3 separate regions of the Homo sapiens genome follow, and all the other regions are linked to region 1. The links come from fine-mapping of genetic effects on gene expression. A gene starts in region 1. Each other region holds a variant in brackets. All regions are shown on one strand. Distances are between the middles of the regions.

Evidence for each region. PIP is the estimated chance that this variant, and not a neighbour inherited with it, causes the effect. A credible set is the group of variants that fine-mapping cannot tell apart.
Region 2: its variant is the best candidate, but not a certain one, in a credible set for the expression of HPSE2 in lung (TOPMed, PIP 0.53).
Region 3: its variant is the best candidate, but not a certain one, in a credible set for the expression of HPSE2 in whole blood (TOPMed, PIP 0.61).

Annotation. Positions count from the first base shown.
Region 1 is chr10:99,232,004-99,239,584 of GRCh38, forward strand. It overlaps HPSE2 (heparanase 2 (inactive)), which reads right to left and starts at 3,849. Exons shown (of 12, transcript NM_021828.5): 1 at 3,510-3,849; 2 at 345-502. The coding sequence starts at 3,799. RefSeq lists a silencer at 2,159-2,278 and enhancers at 4,426-4,926, 4,927-5,427.
Region 2 is chr10:99,009,629-99,017,209 of GRCh38, forward strand. The region is part of intron 3 of HPSE2 (heparanase 2 (inactive)); the gene reads right to left. It also overlaps the pseudogene ARL5AP2. Among named protein-coding and RNA genes, the nearest start is that of MIR6507, 89 kb to the left of the region's middle. The variant A/G (reference allele first, on the strand shown) is at 3,052.
Region 3 is chr10:98,532,157-98,539,737 of GRCh38, forward strand. All of the region lies in intron 9 of HPSE2 (heparanase 2 (inactive)), which reads right to left. Among named protein-coding and RNA genes, the nearest start is that of HPS1, 89 kb to the left of the region's middle. The variant T/C (reference allele first, on the strand shown) is at 3,083.

The sequences.
Region 1 (7,581 bases):
TAAGCAGTTTGGGCTACCAGCTCTCAGCCTCCAAGACAGCCGCCCAGCAAAAGGCCGGCAGCTGGGTGAGAACAACCTGGAGAACCCCCTTTGCGCAATGAGGTCAGGAGTTCCACACTGCAGTGTCTCCTCATCTGAAGCTTCCAACTTTTCATTTTCAGGCGAGGTGCAACCAGGCTCTCCAAATCTGCCCCAACGCGCGCGCGCGCATACACACACACACACACACACACACACACACACACACACACACGAACACACAGACACACGAACACACAGATACACAAACACAGCGGGTGCTTGCTTCCGCTCCCCAAATAAAGAATGGTAATCAAGTTTCTCACCATCCTCATAGTTTTTGAGATAGTAATCCGGGCCCGGGCCCCCGCGGCTTTTCGCCGGGTTCCTCAGGTTCTGGAACTGCAGGAAGTCGGTCCTTTTGCCCCCGAAGCGCAGAAAGGCGGGCGAAAGTCCCCGGGCCAGGGTCACCAAGCGCTTGGAGCTGCAGAGGAAGAGAATAAGAGAGGAAAGGTTCCCAGGACAGGACGAGAGCGCGTGGGGCACGGAGAAGGGCCCTCTTCCTACTCCCTGAGGGCGACCTGGCCGGGGCTAGAGGCTCTGTGCCTGCCCCAGCCGGCAGTCCACGCTGGCCCTTGGCCGCTGCCCTGCGCCCCAGCCCGCCCTCACCGCCCGGCTCTGGGGGCTGTGCCTCCCGCTTCCAGACGCCCGCAGCGGCCCCCTCCCGCAGACACCCAGATCCTGATCTCCTAAAGGCTACAGATAGTGTTTGTTCATAGAGTGTTTGTATGGGGTGGGTGTACGTGCTACGAGCACGGCGCTAAAGCGCAGTTGCCCGGCTTCTGCCACTGCCAGGAAAGCGCTCCGGGCGGAGACGCGCTAGGCGCGCCTACCTCTGGCTTCCGACCGTTGCCAAAAACTTGTATGCTGAAAGCCGGCATTGCCTCCGCAGCCCCAGGGGCCCCACAAACCTCCGTGCAGGAGGTGAAACCTGCCTTGTTTCTCTCAGACCAGGCCCGGCGCCTGAGCTTAAGTGGATTCCTACTTTCTTTCTTTTAATGTCCGAGTTGATTTTCCTTTTTCACTATATTGTAAAAACTGCATTGTTTCCCAAATCCCCGGACGGAGAGATCCCCAGGGTAAACCCTCGCCTTTCCAAGAACACTTCTCCACTCCCGCACCACCACCACCACCACCACACACACACACAGTAAAGGCAAAGTCTCTTTGGCCCCTGAAATAATTCCGCCTGATCTCAGGAAAGGTAACATCCTCCTCCCCACCCCACCCCCGAGTTAGGCTCCATCTTTCTTCTTTCCCACTTGGGGCCGTTTGGAACCGCTAGGGAAAATGAAGCTTGCCGAAATGTGGAACCTGCGCGTTATGGGATACTAAATGAGCACAAAACAATAGCATTTGCATCTATTTAAGGTCAGGATTTCCATCAATAGGTTTTTTAAAAGCCAAAGGCTGCTGCTTTGGGAAGGAGTAGAAAAGGAGCAATGCAGATACTGATAATGCAGAGGGGATCAGCTGTTGAGTTCCGGGTCTGTAAATTATTTTTTAACGCTTTACTGTTTCAGATTCTGAAAACCCAAATCCACATGGTGACGTTAAAGAGCATCATAAAGGAGGTGGATACGAGAAAGAAAAAACAGACTCTGCTTTTGGAGAGTTTTTTGAGAAGAGACGTGGCTACCCCAGGGTCTTGTAACCAGAATGGTCGTTTGGCAGAAGTCTCCGGGACCGCACTCCAGGACAGGCACAGTCAGGGCGTCGCGTGGGCCTACTGTGGCAAAGGAGACGTCCGCGCGAATCCGGTCCTGGGGAAAGGGCAGTTCCAACAACCTTTCATCCAGAAGCCTGCACAGCCAATGCGAATGCGCCCCGCCAGGACTTCTTCCCCGAAAATCTGCCTTCCAGACTCTTTTCTGAGGCAGGAAAGCATTAGGCGAACAGGCAGATTTTTTAAAAAAAGAAAGAAAGCTGGTGGGGGAAAGGGGGTCTGCGCAGCTGAAGGAGTTCAATGAAAGTGGGACAAGCGTTGCGGAAAACTCCGTTGCACCCTACATTCGGACGAGCTCATAGACGCGCTCTGCTGCACGAAAGAGCTTTCGAAGAGGAAGCTGGGCCGCGCGGAGCTGGCTGTTCCGCCCTCGCGGCAACCGCACCAACAGGAACCGAAACGGCCTCGGCAAGGGCAGCTACAGCCTCTCAGTCCTCCGGCTACCTTTCCTCCACGTGGAAGGAGCGCTCCACGTGGCGCCTCCCGCTACCTGCCGCGTCCGCAGACCCGACCCGGGCCAGGGGGACAACCCCAAGAGCTGAGAGGCGGGCGCACCTCAAGAAGCAAAACTCGAATTTCGCAAGGAGTGAAAAATACGAAGGACGCACAACGGACCTGGCCTCGGGGCAAAGTGGGACTGAGAGCGCTGAGGGCTCTTCGAGGGGAACCCACAGCTGAGGCTCCAACTTGTAGGGAATTTTTAAAAACTCAACACTTGGATTCGACATTGCAGAGGATTTATTTCTTATTTTACACTGCAACTCTGTCCCTGATGGGAAGGGATCGCAGTTGCCTAACTGCCAAACTGCAACAACCCGGGAAGAGTGTGAGCCCAATTAGATTACAAGCCCTAGAGCAAAGGGGATCACAAACCTCCGGGTTTGCTAATCTGCTGGTGCGGAGTTCAGATCTCCGAAGCCTCCCTGGAGTATTTCTAGGACTCTTACCGCTTCCCTTATAACGCTGTGACCCCAGCGAGGATTTTTTTTTTCCTTTAAAGAAAAGCTAAACTGTGCAGTTACCGCAGGAGATTTAAGGAGGAGGAACTGGCGGGGGGAGGGGGGCATTCCGTCTATAAAAAGCGCCTTACAAAGTCCTGAAGTCTGGAAATGACAGCGGAGGATATAAAATAAAAAATTTTAACTCCGATCCAACTTGCCCACCACTCAAGCCTCTGCTTAAATTCGTTTTCTGAGAGTGGGAGAGAACTGACGAAACGATCTTTCCGTGGAAAATTCCAGTTTCGTGCAATCCCGCTTGAACACTCACACACACACACTCTCCTGTCTCACATACACACACACACACACACACACACACATACCCATTCCTTTCAGCTCTTTGTTGTTTGAGACCTTTTCTTCGCTTTTGTAACTGCTCTGAACCTCTTGTTTCTTTTTCAGAAGTAGACGGGAAGGCTAATTGTGGATATATGTAAGCACAACATTTTTTCAGTCATAACTGATAAGTTTCTGAAATGCCTTCTGCATTGCAAACATGTGCATCTTAATAGAAAACATTGCTTTTCTCAATCACTAGTTACAGCCTCACAGCACACAATCCAGGAGAAGGAAAACCTCTTTTCTTCTCTTTGAGAGATCTGCTTGGCTTATTTTCTTCTTTCCCCTTTGGAATGGGGGATAGGAAGGGCTTGAGGGGGTGTTACTAAAAAATTTTAAATGATCCATCGAAACCCCTGCCTTACCTTAGGAAATCGAGCCAGCCATCATGAATGATGGACGGATCCAGCTGCAGAGAGAGGAAGTTCTCATTGACTGTCCTGACTGGGTTCTTGGTGCTCACATCAAGTAGAATCAGGGTCTTTTCCTTCAAACCTGCAGCTCTGTCTACAGGCAAGGGTCTCCTGTCTCCAGCCTGGGAGGAAAGGGAGAGATGGAGCAACAGAGCCAAGTAGAGAGCCCCCGGGGCTAGGCACGCGGGGGGGCGGGAGTTGCTGGAGGGCATGGCTTCAGGGAAGGCACAAAGCACCCTCATTCAATCCCTCTGATTTAAACCTCTCTTCCTACTGGGTCTCGCTAGTGACTAATTGTCCTTATCTAAAGTGTGTGTCTGTCCGCCTTTTTCCCCCCTTTTTTTCCCTTCCTCCCACCACCCCCCCAACACACACACACTCTCTCTCTCTCCCGCTCTCTCTCTCTCTCGCTCGCTCGCTCGCTCGTTTTGTTTTTTTCTTTTTTTTTTTTAATTTTTTTTAATTTTTTTTTTCAGTGTTTTGGTGCTGGTGGAGCGAACTCACGCCCCTAGCCAGCCTTCCCCGTGACTCTTGCCAAGAGAACTCGTACACCGGCACCGCCCCTTTAAGAGATTTCTACTGCAGACATTTTTTAACTTTTTAAAGGTAAGGGGAGGGGAGCAGGCGGGAAGGAGGAGAAAAGGGTGGCGTTGTACCCTCCTAATTTAACCCTCTAGGGTCAGGAAGCAGAGGGAGGAATCCAAACCATGCCGTTGTACCGTCTGGGTACAGAGCAAAGGGTCTCGTTTTTACGTCCTTCCCTGAGAGGCTCTGGAGGGCGGTTCAAGCTCCGACTCCGACCCGAAAGCCCCAGCGCCAACCCGGGACGCGCTGGGATAGAGTTCCCACCGACAGCACGCTTGTTTCTCCTGACAGCGTCAGGCACTTCGTCCGCTCAGGGCCCTTTTCTGGTTGAAGCAGCAATACCAAGGGCGGTTAAGTTGCAGAGGGGTCTTGAGGCGGTGATTCCTGTCAAAGCATAGAGCCCTGAAGGACATTCCCCGAAGAGGAGCCCTGATCTCTGTGACGCGTTGGATAGCCACACCGAAGCATCCTCTGACCTCCATAGGGCAAAGAGTAGCAAGAAGGAAAAACATAGTGACCTGGTCAAGCAGCTTTTCCGATCCGAGGGCCAAAAGGGACATGCGCCCTCGCTCTGCTCTGCTCTTCCCGCAACCGAGGAATAAGCGTCTTGGGAGCGTCAATACATGCTGGCTTTGGCCAAGTCGAAGCTACCTGAGCTGTGCTTGGATAGTCAGGGCGGCTCTGCGTCCAACTGTGCCACTTCTTGGCCACTCTATTCTGCTGCACAGGTAGAGTCCCCCCTCCAGACCCTCCTGGAGGTCAATCCTATACTTAGCCCTCCTGCAGGGAAGTGCGCCTTTACAGTGCCAGATGGGACCATAGTGACACTTTCGGGTTTCCATCTCGGCCCCCAGTCAAAACCAGAGTCACATAGCCCTGGATGGGGAATAACAGCCGGAAGCCGCTGTGATGCACGACCCGCCGCTGCTCATTGAGCTTCCACCCCACAACAGCTTGCAAATTGAACTCTAGGTCCTATCCTGAAGCGCGGGAAAGGGATCAGGCACAGTTTGCTGCAGTCACATTGCTGGGCCCCACTTTCGGCTTCTTTCTGAGACAAAATGGGACTTCTACTTGGCAGATGAAGGGAACTACTTTATGTAGTGCGGGCAGTCAGAAACGCAGAAGCGTCCAGGGCCCTCCTTGGTATCAAACAAGCAAAACCCTAAAATGCAGAGCAAGGGTTTTCCCCAGAAGTGGATGGACAAGGGTTAGTCTTAAAGCCCAGCAAACGCTGTAATAGCAACCTGTATCCTCTTACCTCCACCCAGACCAGGATTAACAAATCTGAAAACAGCTGGAATAGATGACCTTCAACTGAAGTTCCCTGAAAAGCCTCTACCAACCTAAGCACCCAGGAAATCGAGATTATGTTGCATTCATCTGTGAAGCGCCATGACGACCTTCTAGAAATAGGACTGCATAAGATGAGGATATGGGAGAAAGCAAATGCAAGTCATATTATTTAAAGATGATTTTTTTAAATCAAGCTGTTACATAGTGAAGTATTGGATGTTGGCTCCAGCCCTAAGGCCTGTTTCCTTCAGTTCCTGAACATTTCTAAGACATCTAGATCCTTTAAACTGTGTGTGTGTGTCTGTGTATGGGTGTGTGGTGTGACATAAATTTCAGTCGAAATTCTTGTAATTTTTAAGTATGTATTGAGCACCTCTTAGAGATGGCAACAGCCTGGCGGGCAAACACTTTTGCCTTTGTGTTCCCAGACTGGAGCACTTAGTAGGCACTCAATAAATTCTGTGAAGTAAATTAATGGTAAATCCAATCATGCTCAACACACTGAAATAATATGCCCCTCTCCAGAACAATGTGAAAAATAAATACTTTTATTTGTCATAGTAAATTATGTTTTGGGTCTCTGTTCAATAATTTGTTTTCCCAGTTATTAACATTTTCCTGGCCATCTCCTTCAAAAAATACTTAACGTGTAAAGCCATTAGTTCATTTGCTATACTAAGAATTTTTAAAATTATATATTTTTAACAATGAGCCAGATTTTCCAAGGGCCTAAAATACCCTTGGCTTACAAGTGAATGCACTTTTAGAAGCCATGTTAATTGGGACCAATGGAAGACAATTTGAATACGTATATCCACTAGATGTCTATAATTAATACCTTTCAAAAATACCTATTCTTGTGACCAAGAATGAACTTGAGTATAATGAGAATGCACATAATTATGAATTTTCACCATTTTTGCTTACTGACCTAACTACTCTATAATGGTTTATTGGCCTAACTAAGTAGTATTTAATGTTTTCATCAGAATCTGTATGTGGTATTAAAATCAAAACCAACAAAACAAAGTGCTTGTTTTCTTAATTCCTGATGAAAACCATTTCTCTAGTCTAGCCATTGAAATTCTAAGTCATTCTATAGAGGACATCAGGGGAAAGAAATAACTGATATTTAAGAGGTTAGCCCTCGTTGGTCTCTAAGATGATTTGATTGTTTGGTGCTTTGGTTTAGTTTGGGTTTAGATCTCCAGAGATACTCTGCAAATAGCTGCCACACATATACCATATCATGGTTTTTGTCTTGCCTCTTATCTATTAATATGCTGTAAGTAGTTCATTAGTAATCAGTATATTAGATTGATGTTTCTATCCTATCTTCTGTGTGCTAGGTGACAGCAATCTGCATCTCTGTTTTGTCTTAGATTGTAACTTCCTAGAAGACAAGTATTGGGCCTCTGTATAAAATATGAACTGTCAGGCCAGGCACAGTGGCTCACATCTGTAATCCCAGCACTTTGGGAGCCAAGGCAGGCGGATCACCTGAGGTAAGGAGTTCGAGACCAACCTGGCAACATGGTGAAACCCCGTCTCTACTAAAAATATAAAAATTAGCTGGGCATGGTGGTGGGCACTTGTAATCCCAGCTACTCAGGAAGCTGAGACAGAAGAATTGCTTGAACCTGGGAGGAGGAGGTTGCAGTGAGCCAAGATGGAGCCATTGCACTCCAGCCTGGGTGACAAGAGCAAGACTCTGTCTCAAAAAAATAAAAAGTAAAATTAAAATTAAAAAATAAAATATGAACTCTCAGGAACTAGATGCACTGATGTCTCCTTGGAAACGCTCTGCTTAGTGTCTACTGAATGGTCTTCATAGATAAATTGCTTTGATATCTAAGAGCCCAGGTTCCCAGAACTGTAAGAAAACGTGAAGATTAACTGATTCAGTGATTTCTAGACTTTGTTTTTTCAAAATAAATATTAGTTAATGGGGAGGAGTGGACATAATGTTTGTCAAGGTTTTTTTTTTTTTTTTTTTTTTTTTTTTTGAGACAGAGTCTCGCTCTGTCGCCCAGGTTGGAGTGCAGTGGCACGATCTCGGCTCACTGCAACCTCCACCTCCGGGGTTCAAGCAATTCTCCTGCCTCAGCCTCCCAAGTAGCTGGGACTACAGGCGCACATCGCC
Region 2 (7,581 bases), 220 kb before region 1:
TGTCCAAGTCTGATTAAACCACAATTCATAGACTATAGAAATGTTAACCCTGGGAGGAGACAAACAGCATCTAAGCCAGTGATTCACATACTTAGGGATTTCAGGACCAGTAATATTTCAAAAAGAAAAATATCAGGGCACCAAAATAGAGTTGCTCATTTTTTTCATAGTCATTTGCTTTTGCAAAACAAAGACATTTAAAATAGCAACTACCATTAATTATCAACATCATTTCATAACTTCAATAACAAAAACGTAGGAAGGACATAAACTTGGAACTTAAAAATTAAATAAATTTAGTTTCATAAAAACTTGTCACTTGGTTCTTATTTTGTCCCAAGTTGCTAAAAGCTTCATAGACTGAAATTCATTTACAGACCATTGTTTGGGAACAATTAGCTAGTTTAATTCCTAACAGCAGACCCTTAGAATCCGCTCTGTTGTGACCACAGCTGTTCTCCAATAAACCAATAATCTAAAACTCAGTGAGATTCTTTAAGGAATGAGATGATTTACTGTGCTTAAAGAGGACATCAAATGAAACTTGTAGCAATCATTGTTTTGGAAAGCCAAAAGACCTGAAGTAAATTAAATGTGTTTATTTTCTATTTTTTTATCTTTGAAAATCCTTTAGCATAAAACATTATAAAAGGTAAATAAAACATACTTGGGGAAAAATGACCATGAAATCAGCCTGTTTGAGAATCTTCACCTTTGCCTAGAAGCAATAATAATGTTAATGATATACTTTCCTGAGCTTGGGAAAAAGCAGGCTCATGAATTGCAGCCTTGTGAAAGAGGGATTTACTTGACTCCTATTGATTCCAGAGATCAGAATTACCATAAATGGGCAGAAATTTTAAGAGAGGCAGTATATAGATAAAGATAAGAACTTGTTTTTAGAGGCATAACTTCTTAAGTAAATTCAAAGATGACTGGGCAACTTCATGGTATGAGAGGCCAACCTATTCTGGAAGTGCTTAAGCAAAACCTGGTTAACAATTTGGCAGCTTTACTGAAAAGGGAAATCAAGGTAGTAGATTAGCTCAGATAACCTCTGAGAAGCCATCTAACTCTAAGAATCTAGGATTCCTTTCCCATCCTAGCCCTTACCAGCCAAGAATCAATAAAATATTAGTCAAATACTCGAGAATAGACACAAAATTCTCTTGAGGATGAATATTAATTGCACAATTTCAGAACACTGACAAGTCGGTAATCATCAGTCTTTTTTTTTAACTGTTAAGTTCAGGGGTACATGTGCAGGTTTGTCACATATTTAAACTTGTGTCATGGGGGTTTGCTGTACAGATTATTTCATCACCCAGGTATTAAACCTAGTACCCATCAGTTATATTTCCTGATCCTCTCCCTCCTCCCACCCTTCAACCCCTCTGTAGGCCCCAATGTGTGTTGTGTTCCTCTCTATGTGTCCATGTGTTCTCATCATTTAGTTCCCATTTGTAAATGAGAACATGTGGTATTTAGTTTTCTGTTCCTGTGTTAGGTTTTTTTTTGGTGGGGTGGTAATTTAGGATTTACTTTTGTAAAACCATGTAGACAAATATTAAATGTTATGCTTGCATTTTGAACATTATAAATATGAAACACAAAACATCCAATGTTAAATACTGATCTCCTATGCCTGATCTAGATTTAGATATTGAGTATTTCACATTTTACAGAAAGGAACTTTCAAAGTTGGATCAATACTTATAGTATGTACTATTATTCAATAAAATCTTCTTGAAATTTAAAAGGCTGAAATTTAGTTTTTTTTTCTTAAATATGCTAAAACGTATCAGTTTGGATTAACCTTCAGATTTTCAAGCCATGAAAGATATACAGGCTGGGCGTGGTGGCTCAAGCCTGTAATCCCAGCACTTTGGGAGGCTGAGGCAGGCAGATCACGACGTCAAGAGATAGAGACCATCCTAGCCAACGTCGTGAAACCCCATCTCTACTAAAAATACAAAAATTAGCCAGGCATGGTGGCATGTGCTGGTAGTCCCAGCTACTCGGGAGACTGAGGCAGGAGAATTGCTTGAACCCAAGAGGCAGGGGTTGCAGTGAGCTGACATCATGCCACTGCACTCCAGCCTGGCGACAGAGCAAGACTCCATCTCAAAAAAAAAAAAAAAAAAAATGCTCTAAGCAAGCATAAAGAGTATTTTGGGTCAAGTTACTTCTTTGTACAAATAATACATTGTATCAATCAATCTTTAAAAGAAATTCTTAAAAGCATTCAAAAATGCTTGCATTTTATAATTCTCAAACAATGTATTTATATTACAGAAGATACAACAAATTTTACATAAATAAAAAATCTCACACTATATTCTCAGTCCTAAAATAAAAAAGAACTTTGCAAATTAAAGAATTATCAATGTTGTTCAGAAAACATACCTTACTTTTACTTTGAAATTCACTTTAACTGCTTGACATATAATTTAATACTTAAAAATAATATAGCTAAATTATTTTATAATATTTATAGAATATTATTTCTCTGAGTAGACATGTTTCACACAACAGTTTCCAATTAATGCAGATAATTCATTTGATAATTTTAATCACAATTTATGATAGACTGATTAATGGATTAAAAATTTATTCAGTAATTTAGATGCCATAAGAACCATTGAAAGTAATAATCTGATAATTACTCATTGTACAATCCTGCCCATTAGTAATACTAAGCCAAGAATCTGATCGCTATCACATTCTGTTGAATTATGTTTCCATCTGTGTGATTGGTCAACAACAAAAAATAGATACACAATATCATGCTTTTTCCTTTTCCTTTTTTTTTTTAACAAGCAGCTCAATGATTTGGAGGGTTGGTTAATACAATACAGAGAATATAGGGAGAAAGTATAAAATGGCACCTAACACCAATGCCAGTACTTATCTCATTATGGTTATACCTAAGGATATTATTAATATTTGTGTTATTTGCTTTTCTTTAGAACTTAAATCAAAGCCATTAACTTGAACTTGAGGTATATACACAATACATATACAACCTTATGCAAAATACTTCCCATATGT[A/G]ACATATTTTAAAATACTGGAAACTGAATATCTGTGCTGATTTGTATTTTGACTTAACGGACCAAGAAGAGAATAACACTCAACTAGGGAGGGTTATACTGATAATAAAGCTCTCAAAATTCAAAATGTCTTCCTCTCCCTTTGTACTTACCAGGGGCTACACAATGTCCTGAGAGGATTCATTATGAGAAAAATGTGATTCACAGCTTTAATAACTTACTTTGGAAAAAACTAATGAGAAAGCAGATTGGAAGGTGAGACTTCATCTTTGTTTTCAAATAAGTGGTCTTACTTTTTCTTCTCATAGAAAAAGTTTAAATCAGTTGATTATAAATATATCTAAATCTTTAATTGCTGCAGCTTTCAGGTAAAGTTTAGCACTTCATTTATACAAAGTCTATGAGAAGAGGTCAGTAGAGATAATCTAATCTTAAGTCGTGACATTAACCATTCAAGTCCTTGGCACAATCCCTCACCAGTTAGAGAACAGCATGCCTGGATATGCCACTGGTGATCTTTAATAGATGTTAGCTTCACAAACTGGGAGATTTCTGCTACAGTTATGCATTTTTTAACATCTTGTTTATTAGCAAAAATCAGTAACCCAGCTTTTCTTAGGTCCTCATGTGCTAACATTTTATAGAGTTCTCTAGTTACAGAAATCCTCTCTCTGTCTGTACTGTTCACAGCAACTATACAGACTCTGTGTTAGTATAGTAAGTGTTTCAGGAAGAACGAAGAGATTCTTGGCCACCAATATCCTCCATTAGGAAATGTATATTATTATGATTATGATTATTATTATTATTTGAGATACAGTCTTGCTTTGTCACCCAGGCTGGAGTGTACTGGCACGATCACAGCTCACTGCAACCTCCGCCTCCCAGGTTCAAGCAATTCTCCTGTCTCAGCCTCCCGAGTAGCTGGTATTACAGGTGCGTGCCACCATGCCCACCTAATTTTTGTATTTTTAGTAGAGACGGGCCTTCACCATGTTGGCTGGGCTGGTCTCAAACTCCTGACCTCAGGTGATCCACCCACCTCAGCCTCCCAAAGCGCTGGGATTACAGGCGTGAGCTACCAGCTGGAAACATGTATTATTAATCACTATCTCTTTTACATTACTTCCTATTGTAGGAGATGTATGTACAACTTCATTCACAGAAAACTGTTAAAGGATGGTAGTTTTCCCTGCACTATCCAGCCCAATAATGATACTTTTGTGCTCCTGGTGATTGAACAGTCTCCATATCCTGGTGAAGAGAATTCCCATTCTCGGGCAGTGGACCCTGCCTCCAGACACCCAGACCGCCTGGCCTCCCTGGCTCAGGCTAAGGGGGTGGCAGAGAGAGACACACTGGAGCCTCTGCCTCTGCAGCTGCTCCCGCCCTGGTTGCTGGCCCACTTCCAGAGAACCAGAGGGAGGCCAAAACCCAGGTCACCCTGCCACACGCGAGTCCCTGCTACTGCCACACACTCACCTGGCTCGTGGACATTGCCACCAAGTTGTCTGCAACGAGCCTCGCAAGCCACCGTCCTCCCCATTCATGTGTTAGTTTGCTAAGGATAATGGCCTCCAGCTCCATCCATGTCCCTGCAAAGGACATGATCTCATTCTTTTTATGGCTGCATTCCATGGTGTATATGTATGATGTTTTCTTTATCCAGTGTATCATTCATGGCCACTTAGGTTGATTCCATGTCTTTGCTATTGTGAATAGTGTTGCAATGAACATGTGCATGCATGTGTCTTCATAATAGAATGCTTTGTATTCCTTTGGGTATATACTCAGTAATGGGATTGCTGGGTTGAAAGGTATTTCTGTCTTTAGGTCTCTGAGGAATCGCCACACTGTTTTTCACAATGGTTGAACTATTTACACCCCCACAAACAGTGTATAAGTGTTCCGTTTTCTCCACAACCTCACCAGCATATGTTATTTTTTGACTTTTTAATAATCGTCATTCTAACTGGTGTGAGATGGTATCTCGTGGTTTTGATATGCGTTTCTCTAGTGATTGGTGATGTTGAGCTTTTCTTCACGACTGTCGGTTGCATGTATGTCTTCTTTTAAACATGGGCAAGGACTTCATGTCTAAAACACCAAAAGCAATGGCAACAAAAGACAAAATTGACAAATGGGATCTAATTAAACTCAAGAGCTTCTGCACAGCAAAAGAAACTACCATCAGAGCGAACAGCCAACCTACAGAATGGGAGAAAATTTTTGCAATCTACTCATCTGACAAAGGGCTAATATCCAGAATCTACAATGAACTCAAACAAATTTACAAGAAAAAAACAACCCCATCAAAAAGTGGGCGAAGGATATGAACAGATGCTTCTCAAAAGAAGACATTTATGCAGCCAAAAGACACATGAAAAAAGGCTCATCATCACTGGCCATCAGAGAAATGCAAATCAAAACCACAATGAGATACCATCTCACACCAGTTAGAATGGCAATCATTAAAAAGTCAGGAAACAACAGGTGCTGGAGAGGATGTGGAGAAATAGGAACACTTTTACACTGTTGGTGGGACTGTCAACTAGTTCAACCATTGTGGAAGTCAGTGTGGCGATTCCTCAGGGATCTAGAACTAGAAATACCATTTGACCCAGCCATCCCATTACTGGGTATATATCCAAAGGATTATAAATCATGCTGCTATAAAGACACATGCACACGTATGTTTATTGTGGCACTATTCACAACAGAAAAGACTTGGAACGAAACCAAATGTCCAACAATGATAGACTGGATTAAGAAAATGTGGCACATATACACCATGGAATACTATGCAGCCATAAAAAATAATGAGTTCGTGTCCTTTGTAGGGACATGGATGAAGCTGGAAACCATCATTCTCAGCAAACTATCACAAGGACAAAAAACCAAACACTGCATGTTCTCACTCATAGGTGGGAATTGAACAATGAGAACACATGGACACAGGAAGGGGAACATCAAACACCGGGGCCTGTTGTGGGGTGGGGGGAGAGGGGAGGGATAGCATTAGGAGATATACCTAATGTTAAAGGACGAGTTAATGGGTGCAGCACACCAACATGGCACATGTATACATATGTAACTAACCTGCACGTTGTGCACATGTACCCTAAAACTTAAAGTATAATTAAAATAAATAAATAGATAAAAACTAAAAAAAAAGTTTCTGTTCACTTCCTTTGCCCACTTTTTTATGGGCTTGTTTTTTTCCTATAAATTTGCTTAAGTTCCTTGTAGATGCTGGATAGTTGACCTTTGTTGGATGCATAGTTTGCAAAAATGTTCTACCATTCTGTAGGCTATTTACTCTGTTAATAGTTTCTTTTGCTGTGCAGAAGCTCTTTAGTTTAATCAGATCCCATTTGTCAATTTTTGCTTTAGTTGCAATTGCTTTTGGCATCTTCATCATGAAATCTTTGCCTGTGCCTATGTCCCAAATTGTATTGTCTAGGTTGCCTTCCAGGGATTTTAAAGTTTTGAGTGTTGCATTTAAGCCTTTAATCCATCTTAATTTTTATATATGGTATAAGGAAAGGTTCCAGTTTTAATCTTCTGCATATTGCTAGTCATTTATCCCAGCACCATTTATTGAATAGGGAATCCTTTCCCCATTGCTTATTTTTATCAGGTTTGTCGAAGATCAGACAGTTGTAGGTGTGTGGTCTTATTTCCAAGTTCTGTATTTGGTTCTACTGGTCTATGTGTCTGTTTTTGTACCAGTACCATGATGTTTTGGTTACTGTAGTCCTGTGGTATAGTTTGAAGTCAGGTAGTCCTTCAGCCTTGTTCTTTCTGCTTAGGGTTGCCTTGGGTATTCAGGCTCTTTTTTGGTTCCATATGAATTTTAAAATAGTTTTTTTTTCTAGTTCTGTGAACAATGTCAATGGTAGTTTAATAGGCATAACACTGAATCTATAAATTGCTTTCGGCAATATGGCCATTTTAACCATATTGATTCTTCCTATCCATGAGCATGGAATCTTTTTCCATTTGTTTGTGTCATCTCTGATTTCTTTGAGCAGTGGTTTGTAGTTCTCCTTATAGAGATTTTTACCTCCCTAGTTAGCTGCATTCTTAGGTATTTTGTGTGTGTGTGTGTGGCAATTGCGAATGTGAGTTCATTCCTGACTTGGCTCTCAGCTTGACTGTTATTGATGTAGGAATGCTAGTGATTTTTGCATATTTATTTTGTATCCTGGGACTTTGCTGAAGTTGTTTATCTTCTTAAGAAGCTTTTGGGCTGAGACTGGAAATTTCTAGATATAGAATCATGTCATCTTTAAACAAGGATAGTTTGACTTCCTCTCTTCCTATTTGCATGCCTTTTATTTCTTTTTCTTGCCTGATTGTCCTGGCCAGAACTTTCAATACTATATTGAGTAGGAGTGGTGAGAGAGACTATCCTGTCTTGTGCCAGTTTTCAAGTGGAATGCTTCTAGATTTTGCCCATTCAGTATGATGATGGCTATGGGTTTGTCACACATAGCTCTTATTATTTTGAGGTATGTTCCTTCGATAC
Region 3 (7,581 bases), 700 kb before region 1:
GGGCTGAGAAGCTCTTTGAGAGCTTGGAGAAGAAAACTCTCCTGTTCCTATGTTGGGAGTCTCTAGTATTTCTTCAACACCTCTCCCAAATTGTTTGTTATGTACGAAGCTTCAGAAATAGAGAAGGTACATCAGATCCTACAACACAAAGGGCCAGCACAGAAATCTTGAAATGCCTATTGCTATAAAGGGAGTTGGGAATGGGAAACTCATGGACCCTTGAATCCAGCCTGGGTTGAATTCTGCCTCTGCTTCGTGATCTTGGGCCCATACCTTAAGCACCCTTTGCCTCACTTATCTGAAAAAACAAAGATGATAAAGATGCCTACCTCAGGGGGTTACTGAGAGGACTAAATAATACATTTTGGGTAAAGCATTATTATTATAGTGCTTGATACATAATACACACTCAATAATATTAGCTCTTGTAGCATAATGTAAAGAAGACCAGATTGGAAGTTGAAGTTACAGAGTTTTCGTCCAAGTGTGTCACTATTAATCTCCAATAATAATTGTTGGAGCTGCACTTTCTTTTCTGTAAAATAAAGGAGTAGGAGAAGATGGTTTCAAAAGATTCTTCCAGGTATAATCAGCTTTTTTTAGCCTCTATCATCTTTCCTTTCAGAGGGCAGAACAATAGCTTCTCTCTCTCTCTGGGATTCAGGGAATAGACTGCAGACCCTGGAAGAGCTTCCTTTTATTTGTCTATTTGGCCTTTATTGCTTCTGGCCTTACTGATTTTCAGGGATGAGGGCTGACCTGATTCTTTCTCTTTCATGGGCCTGAGCCTATTTCCATTTTAACAGATGCTCTGGGCTTACTTTGATCCCTTTCTATTTTGATATTCACTGAAGAACTAGAACTAGATATGTGTCTTCTTGGAGCCTCAATCTTCTCAGTTGTAGAGACTGGATGATCTCTAAGATCCCTTCTAATGCCAATGTTCTATGAGTCTGTGAATCCAAACTGGTACCCCTTTCCAGCTGAAGTTTGGCCTTGACTGCTACAAAGCTGGATGCATTCAAGGGCAGTGTGGGCAACAAAGATTTCAGCCAATGGCGAGGACTACAAATGAAGCAGCTGTAATGTCAGGAAGCATCACCATAATTTGAGGCTCAAACAGCGTAAAGTAGAATTTTATAGAAGGTAGGCTTTTGGAGGTGTTTATGGAAGTCACAATGGGACAGTTTGAAGATAGAATAATGCCTTAATACAAAATTTCCTGGCTTTCTTTTGAGTCATTGGAACACAGTGTTTATGTTTCGTAACGTTAATCACATGCAATTCTTCTAAATCTGGGATCTAATGGATGCAAAAATTGGTCCAAATGTCAATTTTAAACATATGTTTTTTATATTGAATAGACCTGTATAGTTCCAAACACCAGTTAACTCTTTGATGAAATTAGGGTCTGATTTTTTTCAGAGGTGGTTCTGATTGCTATTCAAGAAAGAAGAAAACCTTAGATCACTCCAGCAATGGGGTCAGCTGAGGAAGACTATTTCCTGAAACAAAGCATGAAGCCTGGGATAGCTCAGTAAATACTGCTCACCCTAAGTAATGGATGGAGTTGGGAAGCTGTCCGGCAGACTTTGGTAGACTCTGGAAATTTGAAAATCGGACAGAACAATGAAAGCCAACGTGAGAACCCTTTCATGGGGACTTTAAATGCAGATGGAGAACATGCTGATTTTGTTGGTCATTAATAGTCATCTGAATTTCAAAATGACCATTTTCATTTTTTTCTACTGATGTGAAACAGTTTCACTCAGTCCTCAGAGAGCAATTAACCAGACTTTTTGTTGGTATCCAACAACTGTGCTTGTTGTTTTGTCTTAAGAAAAGGAGGCTGGGAGATGACTTAGCCTTTCAGGACAATAAGAAATTTACAGTTTAAAAAGTGACAGAAATAGGGTTAGACATAAGTTTTTAAATGCCAGGACATCACAATGAGAACTGGCAAAAACCATGATATGGAGGAATGGGTGGCATCTGCTCTGAAGATCTGACAACTACTATCTGTTTTATCCTACAAGGAAATGGAGGACAATTTGATTCTTAAAGTTCCTTCCCACTTGGTGCTTCAAATAACACTGCCATGACTCATAACCATTTGGATATTTAAATTGGAATTGTCTTTTGAGCCAATAAAAGTTATGGAAGAAATCTGCCTCATAGTCATAACCTGAGATTTTTTTCACCCCAACTGAAATTTCCCAGTTTAATTATTCACTTTATTCATTAGAATTTTTAATTTTTTTTTTTGAGGCAGAGTTTCACTCTTGTCGCCCAGGCTGGAGTGCAGTGATGTGATCTCTGCTCACTGCAACCTCCGCCTCTTGGGATCAAGCGATTCTCCAGCCTCAGCCTCCCAAGTAGCTGAGATTATAGGCGTGTGCCACCACACCCGACTAATTTTTGTATTTTTAGTAGAGACAGGGTTTCACCATGTTGGCCAGGCTGGTCTTGAACTCCTGACCTCAGGTGATCTGCCCACCTCAGCCTCCCAAAGTGCTGGGATTACAGGCATGAACCACCGTACCCAGCCTATTCATTAGTTTTGGCATCAAATAACTTTTGTCTATTTTGAAAAATCCAGCTTAGCACTAACAGGTAAGATTAGTGATGGATAAGGTACCAAAGAATGTGCTATAAACTTGGAGAGCAATTCCTAAAGAGATATTTCCAGATATTTTCAGCAAAGGCAACATCAATAAAAGAACTAGAGCCTTCTGAAGTGACTTTTTTTGAAGAAAGCTTCCTTCATTTGGGTATATAAGCTCTAAGATGTTTGATAAAAAGTTAGCATGTTACCTCCTAAGCTTACTTCATGTGTAAGGAGAACCTTCCCTTCCACCCGCCTCTCAGATTTTAGGAGAGCAAGTGAAATGATTCAACTTTGTGGGTTACCTACAGAAAACAACTTCATACTATATTTTTACTACTGTCTTTGAAACCTGCTTTCCTATCCGTGAATGTCCGTCTTCTCAAAGCAGATTTCTTAGCTTTTAGATAATAATGAACAATTTTATTTTCAGATTTTAAAAAGTCCAGGCAATTTTATATAAAAACTAGTTTTTCA[T/C]CCAATTTGATTTACATCTTGGACAATTTAGGCTTGACATAAATCAGAAAACTGCAGTGAGGGGAGAGGCTACATATTTTTGTTTGTTTTTTTTTTAATTCTCTTCCTACCAATTCCTGAAGGAGCAGAGGGAAAGAAGAAAGGTATAATTGGGACAACCATACTTATTGACTGTGGTGGTGTAATATGGCTTTGGTTCACCCTCTGAGGGTGATGCCAAATCATGGACTCCTCTCTTGCCAGACATTTTTGTGGGTTCTTCCAATGCTTTCCTGCTGGAAACCCCCATGTCATACTGTTTTCTTAGGCAGGCAGTATACTCTGGTGGACCACTTGAAACTCCTCTAAGCGTATACTATTGATATATATATCTCAGTCTCTTTCTGTTGGGACATGATTCTTTAAAGATAACTGAAAGCTTGGTTACCTGTTGTGGTAACTACTCTAGCCCAGGAGAGAGAGGCATCTTTGTTCTGCCCTTAGTAGAGATATAATTTCATAATACAACCACCCTCTCACCTCTTTCAACTGTTAGGGACAGTTCCAGCCTGCCTCTTCATTAGACCTTTCCAGATGAGAACCAGGCACTGGGCTCCGTGCCTGCCAAACTTCAGCACATATCAAGGCTTCCCAAGAACTCTTTTGATACTCTAGAGTGTTTCTGGAGCCAAGGAACCCTATCACTGGGCTTGGAGTGGAGAAGAAGAGCCTTCCTCCTGTTCCTACTGCCAAGTTGACACAGCTCTCTTCAAACACAGACAGAATCTTCTCCCTCATTAACCTCACAGCCCCCTCTTATATGCAGACAAAAGATGGGCAATAGGTCCCATCTCATTTGGGTCCAGAGCTGGTCTGGGGCTACCCCTTAGGAAGTCCTGCATGGACAGGTTAGCTCTAACTTCTTTTTAAGATGTATGGGCACTTTATACCCATCAACCTCAGCTTTGGGGCTTCAGGTGGAATGGACAACAGAAAAGTCCCACTTGTTACAAAAGTAAAGGCTCAATGAGAATCAGAATCAGAGTCATGGTGGAGCTGAAAGGATATTCTCAGTTTATTATTCGAAAGATCATTTCAGACACAACTATTTCTTTATTGCTTTATTTTAGGTTAGTGGGGAACCCAAACAAAACTGCTAATGAAGCAGGGCAGGTGGAAACCATTGAGGTGATGCTGGAAAGAGAGAGCACTTCAATGTGAACAAAGAATCCTGATGGTCCTTCCTTCTGAACTGTGAAGGCAAAGTGAAGTGCAGACGAATCTCATTACAAGAGATAGGGAAAAAAGGGGAAGGCCAGAGTTGGTGGGGAAACATCAGGAAGTGTAGTCATGTTTGCCATCTAAGGCCAAGGGAAACAGAGTCAGGTAAGGCAGGAGAAGATTCATAGCTCTGAATCAACAGATTCGTGCTGGAGAATTAGCTCATTGCCAGGGAAGAGAACGTCTAAAGCTTTAAGTACATATTCACTGTCTCACCCATGCACACACATGCCACAAATGCTTCCTGGTGCTGACTCTGTACCAGGGACTGTGGTAGGCACTGGGATTGCAGCCATGAATGTAAGAGAGTTTACTCAGAGGAAAACAAATAAACCACATTCAAGGGACTAAAATAAGTTCTGTTTGGCTGGAGAACAGAGCGCAAGAAGAAGGATGGCACAAGATGGGGTTGGAGATGTGGGTAAAGGTCAAATCATGCAAGTCTCTGTGGCCCATTTTAAGGAATCTGAATTTTATTCCAGAGGCAGTGAATTAAAGGGTTTTAAGAAGGTGTTAACATACACTGTGTTTTATAAAATATTTTTGGCCTCAGTGTAGAAAATGGATTGAAAGAGAGGCCAAAATAAGTTAAGGAGACTTGGGGAGTAAGATGAAGGAGTAAGTTAAGTTTCTAACTCAGGCAATTGTGTGACAGTGATGCCATTTGTTTAGATAAGGACGTTAGAGAAGATTCAAACTTATGGCAAGGGAATGGAGAGGTAGGGGAATGGAGATGTTGAGCTTACATTTAGATAAACATGCCTGTGAAACATCCAGTTGTTTATGTCCAGCAGAAAGCTGAAGGCCAGAAGAGAGAAATGGTCAAGACATATGTATTTGTGAGTGTGGGCGGAGGATTACCTAGGTGCTGAGGCAAGAGACTGAAGGCACAAACTGTTTCAGTATAATAAAGAAAATAGTTAGAATAAGAATAGTCATAATACAAATTAGATATAGAGATGACCATGAACAATTATCAATCATTATTATAAACATTATTAATCATTAGCTTTTAATATTACTCTTTGTTGCATTACTAATATAACCTAGGAATAACCGGCGGGTATAGGGTCAGGTGCTGAAGGGGCATTGTGAGAAGTGACCTAGAAGGCAACAGGTGAGCCTTCTGTCACGCCCGCATAAGGGCCGCTTGAGGGCTCCTTGGTCAAGCGGTAACGCCAGTGTCTGGGAAGGCACCCGTTACTTAGCAGACCGCGAAAGGGAGTCTCCTTTCCTTGGAGGAGTCAGGGAACACTCTGCTCCACCAGCTTCTTGTGGAAGGCTGGATATTATCCAGGCCTGCCTGCAGTCATCCGGAGGCCTAAACCCCTCCCTGCGGTGCTGTGCTTCAGTGGTCACGCTCCTTGTCCACTTTCATGTTCCTCCCATACTCCTGGTTCCTCTTTGAAGTTCATAGTAGATAGCGGTAGAAGAAATAGTGAAAGTCTTAAAGTCTTTGATCTTTCTTATAAGTGCAGAGAAGAAAACACTGACGTATGCTGCCTTCTCCTCTGCTTCGGCTACCTAAAAGGGAAGGGCCCCCCATCCTGTAATCATGTGACCTGCTTCACCTTGTCAATCACTTAGAAGATTCACCCTTCTTACCCTGCCCCCTTGTCTTGTATGCAATAAATATCATCGAGCCCAGCTGTTTGGGGCCACTACCGGTCTCTGCGTCTTGATGGTAGTGGTCCCCCGGGCCCAGCTGTTTTCTCTTTATCTCTTTGTCTTGTGTCTTCATTTATTACAATCTTTCGTCTCCGCACATGGGGAGAACACCCGCTAAGCCCCTTGGGCTGGACCCTACATGTGAGTGACAAATAGATAATAGTCTCCTTTTCTGTTGGGCTTTCTTCATCTTTTTATGGGTCCTGACAATCTCGAACCTTCCTGAAACTAGGTTTACCTAATATTACCAGTAGATTTAGGAATGTATTTATTGGTATTTTACACTAGTTTCTTGAAGCAGCTAAGAGCAAACAAGGCAGTTATTTATTCCCTATGTCTATATAATGTCCCCAGAATATCTCATTAAGAAGGCCTAGGTCAGTTGTTCTCAACCTTACTGTACACTGGAATCATCTGGGGAGCTTTAAAAAATACTGATAAATGGGACCTACTCCTGACTCCCTGCCAACTCTGCTTTTGCTGCCTGGGAATTGGATTTTTTTAAAGCTCCCCAGATGATTCTAAATGTGTAGCCAAGCTTGAGAACAACTGACCTAGATCCTACTTAATTAATGTGGCTTTTGATTTTGCATCAGCATTTCCAAATAAAGGACATATATTCATCTCTAGAGAACTGCTTGTTTAGCTTAATGGAAGAATTGCAAAGTTTGAGCAGGCCCTTCAGGGATACAAGTGAACAGAGGCATAAGCATACGCATTTGCGGGGACAGTGAAGACACTGATGGGGCCATAGCCAATGGATTCATGTGTATTGTCAAGTACTTTGACACATCTTGTCTAAATTGTCCATAGGTAGCCAGCAACGTAGGCTGGTTCTCTCCTAGCAGCGCCAAACAGAAATCAGAATACTGTTCTCCAGAATTACTGACCCATTACATAGGGGAAGGCAAAACATGACTGCTTGATATTAGGCTCAGGAAAGTGGTAAAGAGGTTGCAATCAGTTTTTGGTCCTCTCTTGTCAAACCATTTTATCAACAAATCAGCCCCACAATATTTAACAGTCTGGTAACTGCAAGGCATGACACTTACCCTTCCTTAAAAAGCATGTTAGGCTGGGCACTGTGGCTCAAGCCTGTAATCCCAGCTCTTTGGGAGGCTGAGGCGGGTGGATCACCTGAGGTTGGGAGTTCGAGACCAGCCTAACCAACATGGAGAAACCCCGTATCTACTAAAAATACAACATTAGCCGGGCGTGGTGGTGCATGCCTGTAATCCCAACTACTTGAGAGGCTGAGGCAGGAGAATAGCTTGAACCCGGGAGGCGGAGGTTGCAGTGAGCCCAGATCACGCCATTGCACTCCAGGCTGGGCGACAGAGCGAGACTCTGTCTCAAACAAACAAACAAACAAACAAACAAAAAAGCATGTTAACAAAGCTGTGTGATCCTGTTTTTAGCATTTTACTCAGATTATCAGAAAAGTGTGGGTTGCATTCTACTTCAGGGACTTTCTCATCTACCTTTTTCTTACCCTCTCTGTATCTCCTTCTTTTTTTTGTTCCTGGTTGTCTCTGGCCTATACTATCTTTCTTCACTCTCCCTCTGATTGC